2 linked regions of the Homo sapiens genome follow. The protein of the gene in region 1 interacts with the protein of each later gene in a biochemical or structural test. Each region holds a gene or a part of one and is shown on either strand. Other genes may lie near its edges.

The links.
Region 2: the proteins of RUNX3 (region 1) and TLE1 interact in far-western blotting, tested with the Homo sapiens proteins (one study listed by BioGRID and IntAct).

What each region holds. Positions count from the first base shown.
Region 1 is NC_000001.11:24,919,176-24,928,700, reverse strand, and holds part of RUNX3 (runt-related transcription factor 3), read left to right. Parts: intron 1-970; coding exon 971-1,127; intron 1,128-9,284; exon of another isoform or gene 9,285-9,356; coding exon 9,357-9,461; intron 9,462-9,525. UniProt on the Homo sapiens protein: Forms the heterodimeric complex core-binding factor (CBF) with CBFB.
Region 2 is NC_000009.12:81,608,149-81,617,673, reverse strand, and holds part of TLE1 (transducin-like enhancer protein 1), read left to right. Parts: intron 1-974; coding exon 975-1,028; intron 1,029-1,539; coding exon 1,540-1,692; intron 1,693-4,152; coding exon 4,153-4,297; intron 4,298-5,280; coding exon of another isoform or gene 5,281-5,382; intron 5,383-5,714; coding exon 5,715-5,905; intron 5,906-7,377; coding exon 7,378-7,454; intron 7,455-9,525. UniProt on the Homo sapiens protein: Transcriptional corepressor that binds to a number of transcription factors. Inhibits NF-kappa-B-regulated gene expression. Inhibits the transcriptional activation mediated by FOXA2, and by CTNNB1 and TCF family members in Wnt signaling.

The sequences.
Region 1 (9,525 bases):
GCCGGGAGGGGCGGGAGGCCCGTGTGACTTTAATCGTCAGATCGGAGGTTTTACTGTCACTTGGAGCTTAAAAGGAGTCTTTGAAATTAAAAGAAGACAGGATGTTGACAGGAAATCTGGTCTTCTTAATCAGATCCCAAACATTTTCTCCTTGAAATTTTTACCATATGGATCCCCAGTCCCTGCACGCGGCGGCCACGTTTAAATAGTTGTGACTCTGTTTAAAGTCTGATTCTTTTTCAAAAGGCATCCGCCTCTCCGTGCTCCTGGGGGTGGGGGATTTGGGGGAGATGGTGTTTAGGGGGACATCGCCACCCCCATCCTGCAATTCCCGGCAGGTGCATCCTTCCATTATCAAAAGCCCCACTCTCACTTTAAAGGGGTTTTCTGGTGGCCTTTTTCAAAACACCAGTGAGTTTTGCATTCTGCATTTTCTCTGCATAACGAATTTAGGCTCTGCAGAGGCCAATAAACTGGGCCTGGTCCACATTTCAGGGCCAAATTTCATGCCCTAAACAGCTCTTGCATAAATTGAGTGGGGGTAGCAGCCCTGTTGTTATTATTGTTGTTACTCTTTCTCATTTGGAGACTTCGTTGCTAGGAGCATGTTGATTCCTCTTTCGCTGCAGCCGAAGACAACAGGGGAACTGCACCCCACATCATAGTGACTGAGCTGATTCACAGCTCTGGCTTAGATTTCATTGAAAGGATGATTTCTTGGGACACAGTTTATGTAAGCAGTTGATCTAGGATTTTGGTGTGGAAGCTCGAGATTCCATCTTCTTGTTTTCGTGATATTTGGGGGAAGGTCTTTATTGTTTTTAAGCCTCTTCTCCACCCTGCATTGGAGAAATACTCAGTGTGCCTGGGACCTGGGGGAGCTGCCCAGCCCAGCCCCTCCCCTCCTTTCCCTGGTCACCCTCTTCCTTTCTAAGCTGTCCCCCTGCATCCCCCCGCCCCGTGTCTTCAGGTGGTGGCATTGGGGGACGTGCCGGATGGTACGGTGGTGACTGTGATGGCAGGCAATGACGAGAACTACTCCGCTGAGCTGCGCAATGCCTCGGCCGTCATGAAGAACCAGGTGGCCAGGTTCAACGACCTTCGCTTCGTGGGCCGCAGTGGGCGAGGTAAGTGGAAGGGAGGCCTCGCCATTTCAGCATTGGCAATGGCAGGGGCAGCAGGGAAGGAGGTTGAAAGAGGGGCCTTAGAATCCCGAAAAACAGGTCTCCAGATGCAGCTCTGTCTAAAAACAGCAATTTGTAATCCTGTAGGATATTACAGATCGCTTTGAGGAGGTGAGGAAAGTTATGGTCTCTTGCCAGAAAAAGACAATTTTCTCCCAGTTTCTAGGGTTTACCAACTCCTGAAACCGTTCATGCCACCCCCTCTTTCCCGGTTAAGCACACCTGGTCTCACAAAAAATGCTGGCAGGAGATGGTGGATTAACAAGCTCAAAAAGGGAGCTTATAGGTCTTTCAGCAAGGCGGTTGCAGGACAAGTCCCTGATCTGTGGGGCCCAAGCACCCCAGCCACTCTCTCCATAGGGGGCAGAATATCCCCCACACTCTGAGGCTGTCTCTCCAGCTGTGGTCTCCCAGACCCAGTTTCCCAGCGCCTTTGAGCCCTAGGTGGTCTAGAACGGAAGCTAACGCAGCTGAATGTTGGAAAGCACAGCTCGAAGGCTGCCATCTCCTGCCCCAGAGTCAAGGCGGGTGTGCCACCCTGCCTGTCTGACCGACCTTGAGCAGCAGAAGGAAGGCGGGACGGGGGTGGGGGGCTGTTGAATGGGAGGCTTCTGGGACCTGAAACCCATCATCACTTAACTCCTGGATGGGAAAGTCCTGGAAACCCTGCCCCTGTGGAACGGAGGCCTGAGGGTCCACTGGCCCTTTAAGACCAGCCTGCCTACGAGAAGTGGCTGAAGTGGGAGTCGCCCTTCCCAAGCACCAGGCCCGCCTCTAGCTTTGTTAAGAAGTAAGCTGGGTTCCCTCTGCTCCCCAACTCCACAGCAGGCTGAAGTGGCTGAAGCAGAACCGTGCTTTTCATCACCAATAAACAGGACCTTCTCAAGGTTCTAGTTCCCTCTGAGCTGCCAGCCCCGCTCTGAAACAGGCATCTGGGCACCATTTTTTCCTTTCCAGCCGTTCGATGTATACATACAAATGTCAGCCATATTTTGACTTTTCAGCATTAATTAAAACCAGGACATTATTTGCATGTAATAACTGTTTACTTGTTACTTTTTATGAAACTGAAATAGTTTACATTCTTTCAAACATTTCCTGTTCCTGTTGGCTCCCTTCCCCACACACAGATTTCTTTCAAACGGTGCCCTTAACTGGTTGCAGGTTGATGGATGGAAAATGTTTGCTTTTATGAATTAAGCTTTCATTGCTGCTCCTAATTAGTCTCCAAGTCCCTTTTGTCATCCCCAATCTCTCAAACCCTTTGCGACTTAATCCCAACCCTGAGAGGACAGTCACTGGTCCTTGGTCGGTGGCAGACAAGGCTGATGAGCTCTGCTGACTGCGGGGCAGTGGCCAGGTCTGCTAGCCCAGGTATGTGTCAGGAGCACTATAGCTGCTGCCTGTTGCGAGGCGGGCAGAAGGTGCTGTCGATCTGGGAGCCCAGCAAGGCATCAGGAACTTGATTCTCCCTTCCCACTCTCTCTCCTGGGAAGCGAGAGAAAGAGAAGAGACGACGATTTTCTGAGTTACCGAGACCTTGTCTGGCCATTCTGCACACTGAGAATGATTTTTTTAGGGGTTTTCATGCCCACAGACCTTGAGCCCCCCTCCCCAGGCCTGCAGGGAGGGAAATGGGTTTCCAAGGCGTTGGTTGGGAGCTTGTCCTTGTAGCAGGAATGGCCGAGGCTGGGACTGTGGCTCTGGGAGATGCAAGAGGCTGAGTTTATAAACCATTCTCTCATCCATCTCCTCTCAGAGGTCCATAACCAGTCTCAGTGGTCCTGGGAGGCAGGAAGTGATCTGAGGAGGAGTTCCGATGTCTGAGGAACTGTGGCTAAGGCGTTCAGCCTTCAGAGGCTCGAGGTCTTTGAGAGCCTGCATTCTAGTATCAGCCACCCTGCGTTTGAGTCCCAGCTCTGCTAATGACTTGCTGGATGACATTGGGCAAATGACTTAACCACTCTGTGCCTCAGTTTCCTCATCTGTGAGATGGGGATGATAATGGTACCTACCTCATGAGATTTTGGGAAGGTTAGGGAAATTGACACAAGTGTATCAGCTGGCGCATATTGAGAGCTGGATACATGTTAGAGATTTTGTTACTTCAAATGCCTGGGACTGGAGGAGGACTTTGAGGTCCCTTTGAGCGGTGACAGCCACTGATTCTCTGATTACTGTGTGGTTTGGGCGGGGGTGGGGGAAACCCAGAAGGTGTGAACTGCTGAGTGGGAGAGGTGGAGGCGGTTGGCAGGGAGGAAGGAGGGTGCCGGGTCCGCTGGCATGCAGACACACATCTGCAGTGCCCATCCTGCTGACTGGGAAATTCCCACCTGAGAGAACAGTCAGTGGTTGACAGTGACAATCTGGGCCACTTTAGGAGATGGGACACTTTGGGAGTTAAGACTGGGGGTTGGGACCCAGAACCCTTGCCTGGGTCTCTTGACTTCTGCCAGAACTAAGAAGTCTGATGGAAACCTCTGCTTGTTGCCTCAATTTTTAGTTCTACATTCTGTCTGAATTCCAGGAAGATGGCTTTCCATGAAAGACACGCACCCAGTAACACCACAGAGCTCTTAACAACAGGGCTGAAGGTGTGAACCAAGAAAAGGAAGGGAGGAAAACCAGGTCATTGCTGTCTCCTGCAGTGATTAGGGCTGAGGTCCCTGCCCTGCCAGACACGAGGAGCCTTTCTTACAATACATATTTTATATCAAGCCTTACTATTCTACGTTGAAATGTATAAATAATGAAACCTACCTATTTACATGCAGTTGCAAACTATGTTATTCCATAGCTATGATGGAGAAAAAAAGGGAAAGTAATTTATAATAAAACACTGATTTGAATATGTAAACGTTGGGGCCACAGGACTCCATGAGGTGGACGAATGCCCTCCATGCAGAAGCCCACAGCAGAGGGAACAGGCAGGGTGGCAGGGCTCAATCTGAACCTGGCCTTGCTGCCAATACCATGACTTTCTGAAGTTGTCAACACCTGTTGGCAAAGCGCTGAACAAAATTAAAAAAAAAAAAAGAACTGTCTTTCCTTCTGGAAAATTCAGTAGATATTAAAAGTACAAAAAAAACCCTTGTTTTATGTAAAACTGAGTTAGGTTCATGACTCAGATAATTTTTTTTTCTTTTACTTTTTTTTGGGACAAGGTCTCGCTCTGTCGCCCAGGCCAGGGTGCAGTGGTGCGATCACTGCAGTCTCAACCTCCTGGTCTCAAGCAGTCCTCCCACCTCAATAGCTGGGACTATAGGCATGCGCCACCATGCTCAGCTGATTTTTTAAAATTATTTGTTGTAGAGATGGGGGTGTTGTTCACTGTGTTGCTCAGGCTGGTCTTGAACTCCTGGACTCAAGCGATCCTCCTGCCTCAGCCTCTCAAAGTGTTGGGATTACAGGCATGAGCCACTGCGACCAGCCAGAGAACTTTTATAAGCAAGTTTTTCCCTCCCAGGAAGAATTGAATCTTCACCACCCTGGGCAGCGTTGGGTGCTGGCATCCCCCACCACATACACGCACCCCACCCCTAACGCTGGCAGTGCCACCCCAACACTATGTTGACCACACGCCACCACAAATCCCAAAAATGCCCCTCTAGCAGGCGGCCACTGGCCTAAGTGAAAATGAAAAGCACATGAGCTCTCGAGCTGTGATCAACTGGTTAAAAAGCAACTGTGTGTCGACAGAGATTCGGGGTGCAGTGTGCCGGTGCAGGCTGAGGGGAACCGCTGGTTGGGGGAGAGATGAATGGCTTCTTGGCTGAAGCTGAGAAAACCCCGAGGTCCCCTGAGACTGAGACACGTCCCCTCCCCCCACCCATGCAGCTCCTGTGGGTGGGGCGGGGACCTTATACACATAGGAACCCAGGCAGAGAATGCTCAAGGACTTGCCTGAGGCCCTGCTGCCACCCCGGCTGGTTGATGATGGGTCCTGGAGGAGTTTCTGGAGCCCTAAAGGAAACCCATTTCCCAGACCAAGACTTCTCCCCTGCAACCAGGGCCAGCCCTCAGAGAGCCTGGGTTTACACTTCCTGGGCTCCTGATGGATTGCAGGTTTGCCTGGGACTCCTGCACAGAGTTATATCTAGAGGCTGAGAGAGAGGGATGGATGGGTTTGCCACTGCCAGGCAGAGAGAGAGCTGGGCAGGGCCGGGGTAGCTGAGGGGCACTCAGGGAGACAGCTTTCTCCCACCCCTGCTCCCCAGGCTCCCTGTCTCCCGAGGTCCAGGACTCCTGCCCCTCCCTCTCACTCCTCCTCTTAGGCCCCACACTCCTCTCCTTTGTACCTGGGAGGGGTGGTGACAGGCGTGGAAGCTGGTGGAAGCGGCCGAGGAGTGCTGGTGACCTCAGGGGTGGCATGTGGTTTGCTACCTGGTATGGGTGGGGGCTTCTCACTTCTCAGGAGCGGGACGTTAGTACCTGTGTGCAAAATGGGAGCCATTATCTCTGCCCTTAATTTATTTAACAAATGTTGTTGAGCACCTACTCTGTGCCGGATGCCGTCCTAGGGGCTGGAGACACTGCATGAACAAGACAAAAACTTGGGCCCCTGGGGAGGTTATAATCTAGTAGAAGGAGACAAAATGAGTAGATGGATTATTAAAAGCATATGCATTGTGAGAAAATTCCAGCAGGTGCAGGGAATAGAGAAAGGGAGTGGTAGGGCCTGTGATACTTCAGGTTGAGCTGCTTAGCGCTTTTTTTTTTTTTTTTTTTTTTTTTGCCCTGTGGGCCCCTCTGATAGCTGGTGAAGCCCGCACACCTTTCTCAGAACAATGATATTTTTAAGGTATAAAATCAAATACAAAGTATTACAATAGAAACCATTTCTATTAAAACATAGCAAAATACTTTAAAAATTGTGGTAAATGTGCTGCTTTATTCAATGTATTAAATAAGATCTAGCATTGGGCCTAATGACAACCATGGTTTTGAAGTTGTGATGAGCATAAAAGATATTTAGAGCAATCTGCAGCAACTGTAATGTGATATGTAAGTATCTGTGACGTCTGTTGGTGACAAGGTCACAGGTACGGCTGATAATACCTCTGTGGTTTGTTGCCTACGCTCGTACTTGAGAGTGATGCTAAATTTCAGTTAGAGGTTAGGGACAATACAATTGTAATTTTTTCCTACCCTAGTTCTCAGGCTCATTCAACTCTACGGAGCCAAGTTAAAAATGCCTTCCAGGTGTAGTGGTTTACGACTGTAATCCCAACACTTTGGGAGGCCAAGGCAGGAGGATCACTTGAGCCCAGGAGTTCAAGACCAGCCTGGGCACATAGTAAAAGCTTGAAAAAAAAAAAAAAGAAAGAAAGGAAAGAAAGAAAAGAAAGGAAAGGAAGGAAGGAAGGGAGGGAAGGAAAAGAAGGAAGGGAAAAAAAGAAATAGCCGGGCATGGTGGCGCTCACCTGTTGTCCCAGCTACTCAGGAGGCTGAGACAGGAGGATCACTTGAGCCCGGGAGGTCCAGGCTGCAGTGAGCTATGATCATGCCACTGCACTCCAACCTGGGTGACAGAGCAAGACCTTGTCTCAAAAAAATTAATTAAAATTAAAAATGCCTACTTCAGATAAAGTGACCAGGGAAGGCCTGACTGAGAAGGTGGGCGACCTGAAGGAGGGTTTTAGTAAGCTTTCAAATGCTGCTGTGGGCCCGGGGCCCTGTGGCAGGGCACTGGGACCCATTAGTCCTCCGTGTCTCCAGTCTGGCCCCTAGGGCTCTGGGCTGTCTGCCTAAACTCCCCGTCATAACCAAGAAGGTGCTGGACAATGCTGGCAGGGTCAGAGGCTCAGGGACCCCAGGAGAGTGCTGGGCTGGTTGGAGGAGAAAGAGGTCCAGCAGAGAAATGACCTCAGAGTGAGGAAAGGCAGTAGGAGGGGTCGGGCAGGGAGCCCGAGGCATCTGCCTGGCACTTCCCTAGACCATCTGCACTTCTGCTTCCAGAAATCATACAAAGTGGCCCCTGTGACCTGAGAGTGGGAGACCAGGTCTGTTCTGACCTGGGGCTCCGGGGGCAAGTGCAGTCAGAATTTCTATCCCTGCCTCAGCCGACTGGCTTAGGAAAAGGCTTCCAGAGAAGCCCCTCATTTCCCAGCTGGAGTGACACTCAGTGGGTCTTGAGCTTTAAATTCCCCCTGGTGTCTCAGAGGGCCTTGGGTCCTGTGGCATGGCTCCTGGCAGCCTGGCTGGTTTAATTTTGTTCCGGATTCTCCTGCCTCTGGGGCTAGAATTTTCACTTGATCAGTTGACTAACAAGTACCCGGCCATGCAAAGAGAACTGTGAGATACTGGTCTCCACCCTGAGCTTCATCTCCCACCTGCAACGTGGGGCTGTTGAAACCTACCTGCTCACTTTGGAGGCGTGTCAGGGGGACACCAGAGGGATGCGCTTGGGCAGCCTCTCTCCTTGACCATCCTGTGCCAGCCCTGGGGTACAGGTGAGAGTGCGAGACCATTGGCCCCTACCCACAGGGAGTTCCCAGGCCTGTACGTGGGATCCAGAGGCAGGGATAGGGGGATAAAGTCTGGCTTGGGGGATCCGCAAATCTCCCCCGCTCCCGGCCACCAATCTCATAAAGCATGAGGCTGTGGATCGTAATAGAGAATAGGGTGAGAGGAGGACTCTTACCCAGACCCCCAAACTCCCAGACACATCAGAGAATTCACTGTAGAAAGTAGAGAGAAGACTGTCGAAAGTAAATCTTCATAAACTGCTTTCTACACGGAGAAACCCGTCTGAACATAAAACGATAGAAGAACGAGAAATAGAAGTGAAAATGAAAAACCACCCAGCGTGTGAAGGCAAAATGTGCAGGCCTGTGCCCGGGGAAACTGATGGCCACAAATACAGCATGGAAAGTATTAACAAGCTTAATATATAGCAATTTTTAAAAGGCACTAAAACCTTCACAGGAAAGTAAAAGAACATGAAGCAGTAATTTGTGTTGGATTATGATGGATAATAATCATATAAAAAGTTTCATTCTCACTAGTAATAGAAAAAAAGGCAAACAAAATCAAGAGCGTGTAAAAGATCTTCCATCTTGATAGACACATCCCTGGGGTGTGACGCAGCCTCACACGCGAGGGTGACGACTAAATCTCTCCGGAGAGTCATCTCACTCCAAGAGGGATCCGCGCCCGTAATATGTCCCAACCCTCTGCTGCCGTGAAATCACTCACCGCTTCTTGGAATCTCTTCTAAGGAAATAAGCAGAGATGCAGACAAAGATTTTTATAAACAGAAGGTCACTTTCATTTTATTTTAAATGGTAAAAAAAAAAAAAAGTAGTATTTTAAAAGTTTTTTCCCCTCTCAGGAATTTTGAATGGAGACTTTGGAGCCAAATGTCTATCTAAAAATAGAACATTCTGGAAATAACAGTTGTGTCTACAGAAGAAATGTCTGCAGCTCCCAAATCAGTCCTTTTTCAGCTCCAGCTGCACACATCAATAAGAAATTAGCAACGATGTAAATACCCGAGAGTAAGGAGGTAGATAAATAAAAGATGAGGAGGCTTCCTTGAGTTGAAATATTTTGCAGCCATTAAAAACGAAGTTTATGGAGTTTTAATGACGTGGGAAAGTGCTTCTGATGTGAGGTTAAATGAAAAAAAAAACAGTATGAAAATCTGTATTTTAGTACCACTGCGACTGTGTAAATATACAAACCCATACAAAAAGAGCTGAAAGGGAAAACACCAAATGGTAACGGTGTCTATCTCCAGCTAGTGGAACCGTGGGGGGGGGGTGTCTTTTCTTCTTTATTTATATTTTGTATGTTCTTGAATTTTTCTACAAAGATCACCAATTACTTTCAGAAAATAGAATATACCCATCCTGCTCCCCACCACAAAATCGTGTGGGTCTCTGAATAGAAGAGACAGCAGAAAGGCCAAGAAGAGGGGAACATGAGCCAGGGTGGTCACGGCATGGGGCGGGGGGTTGACAAAGTTGGCGTCAGACCCCCAGGGGCCTTGAATGCCAAGCCCAAGAGCTTGAACTTCACCCAGAGCCCTATCTTCTGCCCATGTTCAAAGAGGACAGAGTGCCCCTTCTTGACAGTTAGGGGCTTCCAGGGGTAGATACAGGTGGGAGAGCAGGGTATTGTGGAAGCTCCAGGTGCCAACCACCTGCCTCTATTCCCCACTCTCCCCAGGGAAGAGTTTCACCCTGACCATCACTGTGTTCACCAACCCCACCCAAGTGGCGACCTACCACCGAGCCATCAAGGTGACCGTGGACGGACCCCGGGAGCCCAGACGTAAGTGCCACCGAGCCCCCTGAGCCCCTGCGCGGGGGAGGAGGGTCCAGTGCGGGAAGGACAG
Region 2 (9,525 bases), on another chromosome or scaffold:
CCAGAGTGCAGTGGCACGATCTCAGCTCACTGCAACCTGCACCTGCTGGGTTCAAACGATCCTTGTGCCTCAGCTGCCTGAATAGCTGTGACTGCAGGCATGCGCCACCACGCCCGGCTAATTTTTGTATTTTTAGTAGAGACAGGGTTTCACCACGTTGGCCAGGCTGGTCTTGAACTCCTGGCCTCAAGCGATCCACCTGCCCGCCTCGGCCTCCCAAAGTGCTGGGATTACAGGCGTGAGCCACTGTGCCCGGCTGAACAGCTTTTCCGAATCTTTTCCAAACCCAGTGCTACCTTGGAGTTTCCTCTGATTAGTAAATATGATAGCTTTATGAGGGGACAATGAGAGCCCTATTGCAGAATGCCATTGCCCTTCAAATATTGCCATCTATTATCTTTCCAAAAATACTTCAAGCTGATTGCTAAAAAGGTTTATTTTTAATTTACTTTTTTGTTACTTAAGAGAAAAAGATTGGGTTTTGTTTGCTTATTCGATCCACCAGCTAGCTTTCCAGGATTCTTTTTTTTTTTTTTTTTTGCATTAACTAGTAATCCCATGGGAAAATGGTTTCCCTTGAAATCATATGGAAAAACTCTGATATAAGGGTGTGCAGATCTCAAATTAAAGATTTCATCCCTCGAGAAATTCAGCTGTTGCAACCATTTACTGAGCTCTTACAATCTGCCAAGTATTTGCAACTTGCCATCACCTGTAAACAAGTTGTGATTGGATAGTTGGTTTGCTACTGCTACAGAATTCCTGCCTGAAGCTTTGCCTAGCCCCAGGTCAGATGAGAAGAGGGGGAAGATGATAATAATTACTAGGACTGGCAAACTGATAGAGAGCCTGCAGGCCTGTCCCAGGTAGTTTTTTTAGTCTGTCTGCTACCAGGAACTATAGAAAGAAATCTAACTGTGCCTCAAACCTATTCTTAGCTTTTAGTAAATGGCGTTAATGTTTCTTTTTTCCAGGACAGTGATGGTGACAAAAGCGATGACAACTTAGTTGTGGATGTGTCTAATGAGGTAACCATTCTTTTCATCAAAGTTTGTCTTCAGAATGATTTGAATAATGTTATGAAAAAAAACTAACAGTGAATGAAGGAAGTAGAGCCCCTCGGTGGGGGGACCTCTTGCAACTTCTTACATTAAGAAGTTAATGGTTGCTCATGTATGGAGCAATAATGGTCTAACTGACATAAAGTTTTATTTCCTTTAAAAAAAGATATTTCTCTAGACATTTTGAATGCCTAAGTTGGATGTTTGGCTCCCCTTTCCTTCCAGTGCCCTCTAGGCAAAGTTCTTAAGCATGAGGCACAAAGAGGGATATGACTGCGGGGTTTTTTTTTTATGGCATGTTTGCAGGTATGTTTGCCGACACCATATTGCTCATTTATAACATGGTGTTGGTCACCTTGTACAACCCCAACCCGAAGGACTTTCAGCTCTGTCCTTAAATTTAGAGAATGAGTGTGGAAAGGGAAAAGTCTGTCTGTTACAAGCTAAATCACGAAAACTTTTGATTATGCTTGTTGAGGACCCTTCTTCTCCGCGAGCAAGCCCTGCCCACTCGCCCCGGGAAAATGGAATCGACAAAAATCGCCTGCTAAAGAAGGATGCTTCTAGCAGTCCAGCTTCCACGGCCTCCTCGGCAAGTTCCACTTCTTTGAAATCCAAAGAAATGAGCTTGGTAGGTAAAGAAAACTGACACTTGCCTGTTTGGCAGTGTATTTTTCATTGTGGACTGGAGGACTCTGAAGTATTGGAAATGTGGGGGTTTTGCTGCTTGAGGGTTGTATTTTTAAGAGTTTAATAGTGAAACTCATCCTTCTGTTCTTTGTCACCATTCAGGGTTTACTTTTTCCCCTCAGTCATCTCTTTTCGGCCATGATTAGAGGGTGTACACGCATCTGTGTTCATTGCCTTCTTCTTCTTCTTCTTCTTTTTTTTTTTTTTTTTGAGACGGAGTCTCACTCCATCATCCAGGCTAGAGTGCAGTGGTGCAGTCTCAGCTCACTGCAGCCTCTGCCTCCTGGGTTCAAGCGATTCTCCTGCCTCTGCCCCCTGAGTAGCTGGGATTACAGGCGCGCGCGACCATGCCCAGCTAATTTTTTTTTTTTTTTTTTTGTATTTTTAGTAGAGATGGGGTTTTGCCATGTTTGTCAGGCTGGTCTTGAACTCCTGACCTCTTTGATCCACCCGCCTCAGCCTCCCAAAGTGTTGGGATTACAAGCCCAGCCTCATTGCCGTCTTACTTGGGGGATATGTTCTTGCCACACAGCTCTCTGAAACTTCCCAGTTGACAAATGGTTCAAACTTCTGAGATTCTTTTTTTTTTTTTCTGAGACGGAGTCTCACTCTGTTGCCCAGGCTGGAGTGCAGTGGCGTGATCTCGGCACACTGCAACCTCCACCTCCCAGGTTCAAACAATTCTCCTGCCTCAGCCTCCCCAGTAGCTGGGATTACAGGCACTCACCACCACGCCTGGTACCACCATACATTAGAGAGGGTGTACACGCATCCATGTTCATTGCCTTCTTCTTCTTCTTCTTTTTTTTTTTTTTTTTTTTTTTTTTTTTTTTTTTTTTTTGAGATGGAGTCTCACTCTGTCACCCAGGCTGGAGTGCAGTGGTGCAATCTTGGCTTATTACAGGGTTTCATGTTGGCCATGCTGGTCTTGAACTCCTGACCTCAGGCAATCTGCCTGCCTTGGCCTCCCAAAGTGCTGGGATTACAGGTGTGAGCCACCGCACCTGGCCTCAAACTTCCGAGATTCTTAAGTCTTCATTTTCTTAGGCTGGTCATTTACCTGGTAGACTGATCCTTAATATCGGGGCATGTCATAGAGCATGCCCCGATATTATGGAGCTCGTCAGATCAGTGATGCACAAAGGAGGCCCCAGGGGAAGCCAGGAACTGGTGCATCAGAACCCACTCATGTGGTCACTCATTCAATCAAACTTTGTAGACTGCATCATCTTTTAACAATAACATTTCATAACAACCCTTCAGTTAATCCTTACCTGGTCCCGGTAGGCATTATCCCATTTTACCGGTTGGGAGGGATGAATAACTTAACAAGGCTACACAGCCGTGGCTCATGATCCAAGGTCAGAAAGAGCTCTCTTTAGCCCGTGCTCTTTGCCACGCTGTAGTGGTTCTTGGACTGTGTTGTAAAGCACATGAAAGGTTGAAAGGCCAGAGAAGGTGCCCTGTAACCCTGTTACTGTCTGGTCTCCGAAAGGCCCCTTGCTGGTGTTCAGTCTCTGATCTGCACTGGTGGGTCCACTTTGGTTATGTAGGCAAGTGGGCAGTGACTCTTAACTCCAAAGTGTTGTTCTTTTTAGGCATATTGGTAAGGTTAGCCCTGGGGCTTTTGTCTCTGAGATACTGGCCCCACTCTCTCTCACCATTTGTCTCAATCCCAGGGCTACCTAAAAAGGAGACTTGAAAAGGGGTCTTCTGGCCTGGCGCGGTGGCTCAGGCCTGTAATCCCAGCACTTTGGGAGGCCAAGGCGGGTGGATCACGAGGTCAGGAGATCGAGACCATCCTGGCTAACATGGTGAAACCCCGTCTCCACTAAAAATACAAAAAAATTAGCTGGGCATGGTGGCGGGCACCTGTAGTCCCAGCTACTCAGGAGGCAGAGGCAGGAGAATGGCGTGAACCCGGGAGGCGGAGCTTGTAGTAGGCCGAGATTGCGCCACTGCACTCCAGCTTGGGTGACAGAGTGAGACTCCATCTCAAAAAAAAAAAAAAAAAAAGAAAAGAAAAGGGGTCTTCCTTGGACTTGGCGGCCAGGACATGTGTTTCTGAGTGCCTGGGAAATATTCTCTGGGTGGTCATCTTTCTAACTTGGCGTAGACCCAAAGTCCACAAGGCTGATGGAAAATACTTTTAAAATAAAATCTGCGGAGGAAGAAGTGTGATCATGTTCTGTGTCTCTAGCTCGAGTTTTAATTCTGGCAGGAAGAGGAAAGGTCAACATTTCTCGCTCACAAGTTAATGCTGTCAACATTGTGTGGATTTATGAAAATTGGCTGAGGGAGTAGCTAGAAGGTGCCCAGTGTCCCAGCTGCTGTTGTGATAAATTGTGTAATATGGCTTGGATTAAAAATAATACTCATTTAATTTGTTTAATGACACCAGCATGAAAAAGCCAGCACGCCTGTTCTGAAATCCAGCACACCAACGCCTCGGAGCGACATGCCAACGCCGGGCACCAGCGCCACTCCAGGCCTCCGTCCAGGTCTCGGCAAGCCTCCAGCCATAGACCCCCTCGTTAACCAAGCGGGTACAGCATCGCCTCTTGTTGTGCTTTGTTTGGTTTCTCCCATTCCCAGCTTGATTTGTTGTCTGTTAATGTTGTGACGCAATTGCCCTACAAATATGAAATGTACGTAGGGCCACCCTCCTTCCTATCTCTGAAAAAGCCATGATAAGAAACAGATGTTTGTCCTGGGGTTTCAGCAGCTGCACTCTGTTCAGTCTCCAACTGTTTACATTCAGCTTTTCTTTTTTTCTTGAGACGAAGTCTCGCTCTTGTCCCCCCAGGCTGGAATGCAATGGCGTGATCTCAGCTCACTGCAACCTCTGCCTCCTGGGCTTTGAGACGAAAGTCTTGCTCTTGTCCCCCCCAGGCTGGAATGCAATGGCGGGATCTCAGCTCACTGCAACCTCTGCCTCCTGGGTTCAAGCGATTCTCTTGCCTGAGCCTCCTAAAGAGCTGGGATTACAGGCGCCTGCCACCACGCCTGGCTAATTTTTGTATTTTTAGTAGAGACGGGGTTTCACCATGTTGGCCAGGCTGGTCTCAAACTCCTGACCTCAGGTGATCTGCCCATCTCGGCCTCCCAAAGTGCTGGGATTACAGGCGTGAGCTACCTTGCCCAGCCTTCTTTTAGTTTTAAATAATTCAAATCCTAGGGACTTCAGTAAAGTTTCTGATAATTATTTTGAACACAAGCCTCCCCACCTAACTAGCATTGTGCGTCTGACTTTGCTAATACTGGCTGAAACAGCGGTTTGGCTGGCCCAACCGTGCTCCTTGCAGACTATAGTTTGCTGGTTTTCTGCTAGGGGAGGCTTCAGGAATCAGTGGTCTCTCCTGCAGTAGAAATTAGGAGGGTTTCTCTGCGACTCCAGCCCTTAAAAAACTCATAATTTGCAACCTGATATTCCCCAGTGGGAAAGGAAAAAAGCAACAACCTGGGCCCAAAGGAAAATAGGCAACAGAATATTCCTCCTAAACCCGTGCTTTGGTTTACGTAAATCCAGGATTGGATTTTCATTTGGAATTGGTACCAGGGAATGGAAAGTTCGGACTGAAAGAGAAATCTTGGATTTTATCGAGAAAATCTTCTTTTGAGATTAAGTCAGGTAAACACTTGGTGCCTGTGCCTTGGTTTGCCCTCTGTAAATTGGGTAGGGAATACTCTTAATTCCCCTGGCTTCCTGGTGCTGCCATTTACACAAATGAGAAAATGTGTGGGTTGTGCTTCCCCTGGAGTCTTTTCTTTCCTGGAGATGCATTCGCTCTGGGGAAGGAGGGATCCAGTGTATAAATTGGAGGTGATTTTCCCCCTCCCCTAGAAGCCTTACCTCTTTCTCTCTCCCCATGAGTGACACTAACAAATGATGAGGCCAGACTTGCTGGTCAGGTTTGATGGAGTGGGTCAGTTGAATGATGTGCGGCTTGTGTTTCCTTTCAGCAGCTGGCTTGAGGACACCCCTGGCAGTGCCCGGCCCATATCCTGCTCCTTTTGGGATGGTCCCCCACGCTGGCATGAACGGCGAGCTGACCAGCCCAGGCGCTGCCTACGCCAGTTTACACAACATGTCGCCCCAGATGAGCGCCGCAGCCGCCGCGGCCGCCGTGGTGGCCTACGGGCGCTCCCCCATGGTAGGCCGCTGTCGGGTGGGCTGTGGTTGGGGTAGGAACGCTGCATGCTCCATTGAGCGCTGTCAGGTTTGGGGCCAGGCCTCTCTGCGCTGCGTGGGCAGGAGCAGCCAGCCCCACACACCTCGGAGACAAAGACGCCCAGTCTCCCAGCCACACACTCACCTTCCTCTTGTCAGCTTTCATCAGCATGCTGCTTCATTAAGTGAGGGCCAAACGTTTTTTGTTTTAGTGTTTTTGTGGATGAAAAAGGCAGTGTTTAGAAGCTCCTTCAGTGGTTCAGGGGACATCTGGTTTTCTCCCACCAAAGTCGATTTTTTTTATTTGAAGGCGATGAAATGATTCGAGTGGTTCACAGAAGCCTTTTCATTCATTTTCTTGAACTTTTTTTTTCTCATTAAACCTTAGGAAAAAATGTCTGAGAAGCCATCGCTTTCTCTTTCTATGCCTATGTTACACTTTAAACCCAATAGCATGACTTATATATAAGCAGTGGTCTCTGTAAACAGGTAGAATTCTGGACAGACTGAACCACGGGGGCAGGCTGTCTCTCGTCTGTTTGCCCTGCCTCTTGCCACTGTGCAAATGATCTAATTTTTGAACAAGAAGAAACAAAACTGCATTTGAAGGGTAGAATTGGCTCTGTGATCGTTGATTGCATTAAGGGTATAAAGTCCCACCGTCATTTCTCTTGGCTGTTTGAAAAATGTCCTCTACCTTTCTCTCTTGTCCCCTCTTCACATAGCATTACCTCCACTAGTTTGCGGTGACATTAAGATTCATTTGTTTTTCCTGATATTGCACTTGTAGGAGAGGCTGTGCAGTGGCGGGCAAAGTGTTGAAAGTAAGGTGGTCAGCTGAGAGACTACATGCTGTCCTTAACGCTGCACAAAGTAGGGAATCCATGTATGAATCCTTAAGCATTAAATTAGACCCATGTATGCAACTGGGGATGATTTTGTCCCTTGAGGACATTTGATAATATCTGGAGACACTTTTGATTATCATAACTGGGGGTGGGAGGGGGGGCAGGTATGGATTCCTCTTGGCACATAAACAGTAGGGGCCAGGAATGATATTCAGCATCCTGCAACGCCCAGGACGGCCCCTAACAAAGAAAAGAACTGTTTGGCCCCAAATGTCAATAGTGCTGAGGTTGAGAAATCCTAATACAACATACTGCTCTGTGAACTTGCTTGCAAGTCTAAGGGAAGTATTTACCATGGGGAAGTGGTTCTCAGTGCACAAATAGATCACATCTCCTCTCTACCTCCCAAAAAGGAAGTGGGTCTTGTGGCGTTCAGGGGTGCTTATATTACCTCTTGCATAGTAATTAAAAAGAAAAACACTAGGCCATGTTACTGTTCCCATTTATGTTGCTTTGGGGATCTGTGAGTTTCTAATGAACAGTATTGATGTTCACAAAGTGCCTGCTGCAATAAACTGAGTCTGCAATGCCTTATTTTTGTTTCCAGGTGGGGTTTGATCCTCCCCCTCACATGAGAGTACCTACCATTCCTCCAAACCTGGCAGGAATCCCTGGGGGGAAACCGTAAGTACCTCAAAGACCTTGGTTTTGTTTTAAAGGTGGTTACTCAGTCATTGGTATTAGCAGACTAGAATTCCAAAGGGAGTACAGGCTTGGGCGTTTCCAAGGAGATTTCTGGTGTCTTTTCCTGAGGAGTGTTAACACTTTCTATAAATAGGCAGCTTGTAGGTGTCATGCCTCTGTCTTCTCCCTGGGGGTGATCTCCTTAGTTATTTCTGGAGAGAAACTGTTGGAGATGAGGACGAGGTGGGAGGAAAGAGCTGGAGGTGGCTGGCCCTCTTCGCCTGACCCCTCAGAAAGCTGCTCTGCTCTGCTCTGCCATTTGGCTAGAGGGCAGCTGCTGGAGATTCCCAACAGTGCTGTGCTGTGGGCAGTCAGCTGTCACGAACTCTTGCAGGCTTAGACACTTTTTTGAAATGTGTCATCTCTTTACTCAGCTCTGTGCCACCTTTTTCTTATTTTGGTGGAAACAAGAGTTATTTGAAGGGTAGGTTGTGTTGGATGCCAGCACCCCAGGTTTACCCCCAAGTAAAGTTTTGATGAGTGCTCCAAGAGATCTAGAATTATAAAAAGCAAAGTGGCTTCGTGGGGAAGCAGGAAAAGTTAATGTTCATTTTGTGTCCAGTGCACAAAAGAATTGGAATTTAAAAAAACTCAATTGGCTATTCTTCCTGGGTCACTTTAAAAATTGCTTCATTTTCATAATGTTAGTAATTAGAAGTGTGATTTCAAAGAATTGCTAAAGTTCTCAAATTTTTTAAACAGCAGAATTGAAATGTGAAGGTCTGTTTTGCTTAGCAGCAAAACTCTGCCTTCTCCTAAGATAGAAAATAGCAGAGGCCAGGCGCAGTGGCTCACGCCTATAATCCTAGCACTTTGGGAGGCTGAGGCGGGTGGATCACCTGAGGTCGGGGGTTCGAGACCAGCCTGGCCAATGTGGCGAAACCCCGTCTCTACTAAAAATACAAAAATTAGCTGGGCGTGGTGGTATGTGCCTGTAATCCCAGCTACTCGGGAGGCTGAGACCAGAGAATCGCTTGAACCTGGGTGGCGGAGGTTGCAGTGAGTGAAGATCATGCCACTGCACTCCAGCCTGGGTGACAGAAGGAGACTCTGTCTCAAAAAGGAAAGGAAAGGAAAGGAGAGGAGAGGAAAGGGGAGGGGAGGGGGCAGGTCTTTGCAAATGTTGTTTTTTTTCTTTTTCTTTAAGGCAGCAGATCTTTGCAAATGTTGTTGCTTTTTTTTCTTTTTCTTTTTCTTTCTTTCTTTCTTTTTTTTATTATTTTTGAGACGGAGTTTCACTCGTTGCCGAGGCTGGAGTGCAGTGGTGCGATCTCGGCTCACTGCAACCTCTGCCTCCCGGGTTCAAGCAATTCTTCTGTCTCAGCCTCTCGAGTAGCTGGGATTATGGGTGCATGCCACTATGCCTGGCTAATTTTTGTATTTTTAGTAGAGATGGGGTTTCATCATATTGGTCAGGCTGGTTTTGAACTCCTGACCTCAGCTGATCTGCCCTGCTCAGCCTCCCAAAGTGTTGCGATTACAGGCGTGAGCCACCGTGCCCAGCTGATTTTGTTTCAATAAAGGTACTGGTGCTACATGTCTTAGGCCTTCAGTTTGTTTTTGTCATACCCTTGCCTTCATGTGGTTGCTTTCAGCTTTTATCAGTACGTCACTTGCATGTCACATTAGTGAGTTTTTTATTTTTAGAAACAGGGTCTTGCTCTGTTGCCCAGGCTGAAATGCAGTGGCACAATCACAGCTCACTGCAGCCTCGACCTCCTAGGCTCCAGCCATCCTCCTGCCTTGGCTTCCTGAGTAGCTAAGACTACAGGCGTGTGTCACCATACCTGGCCAATTTTTAAATTTATTTTTGTAGTGACAGGGTCTCCCTATGTTGCCCAGGCTGGTCGTTGGGGCACTTGTGAGCATTTCCTATCTGTGGTTGCCAGCAGTGTTGTAGCTATTGTATTCCACTGATTGGTGAGTGGATAAGGGGCAAACCGGTAAAGTTGTGAGGCCCTGGCTTCACACAGTCCTCCTGCCTTGGCCTCCCAAAGTGCTTGGATTACAG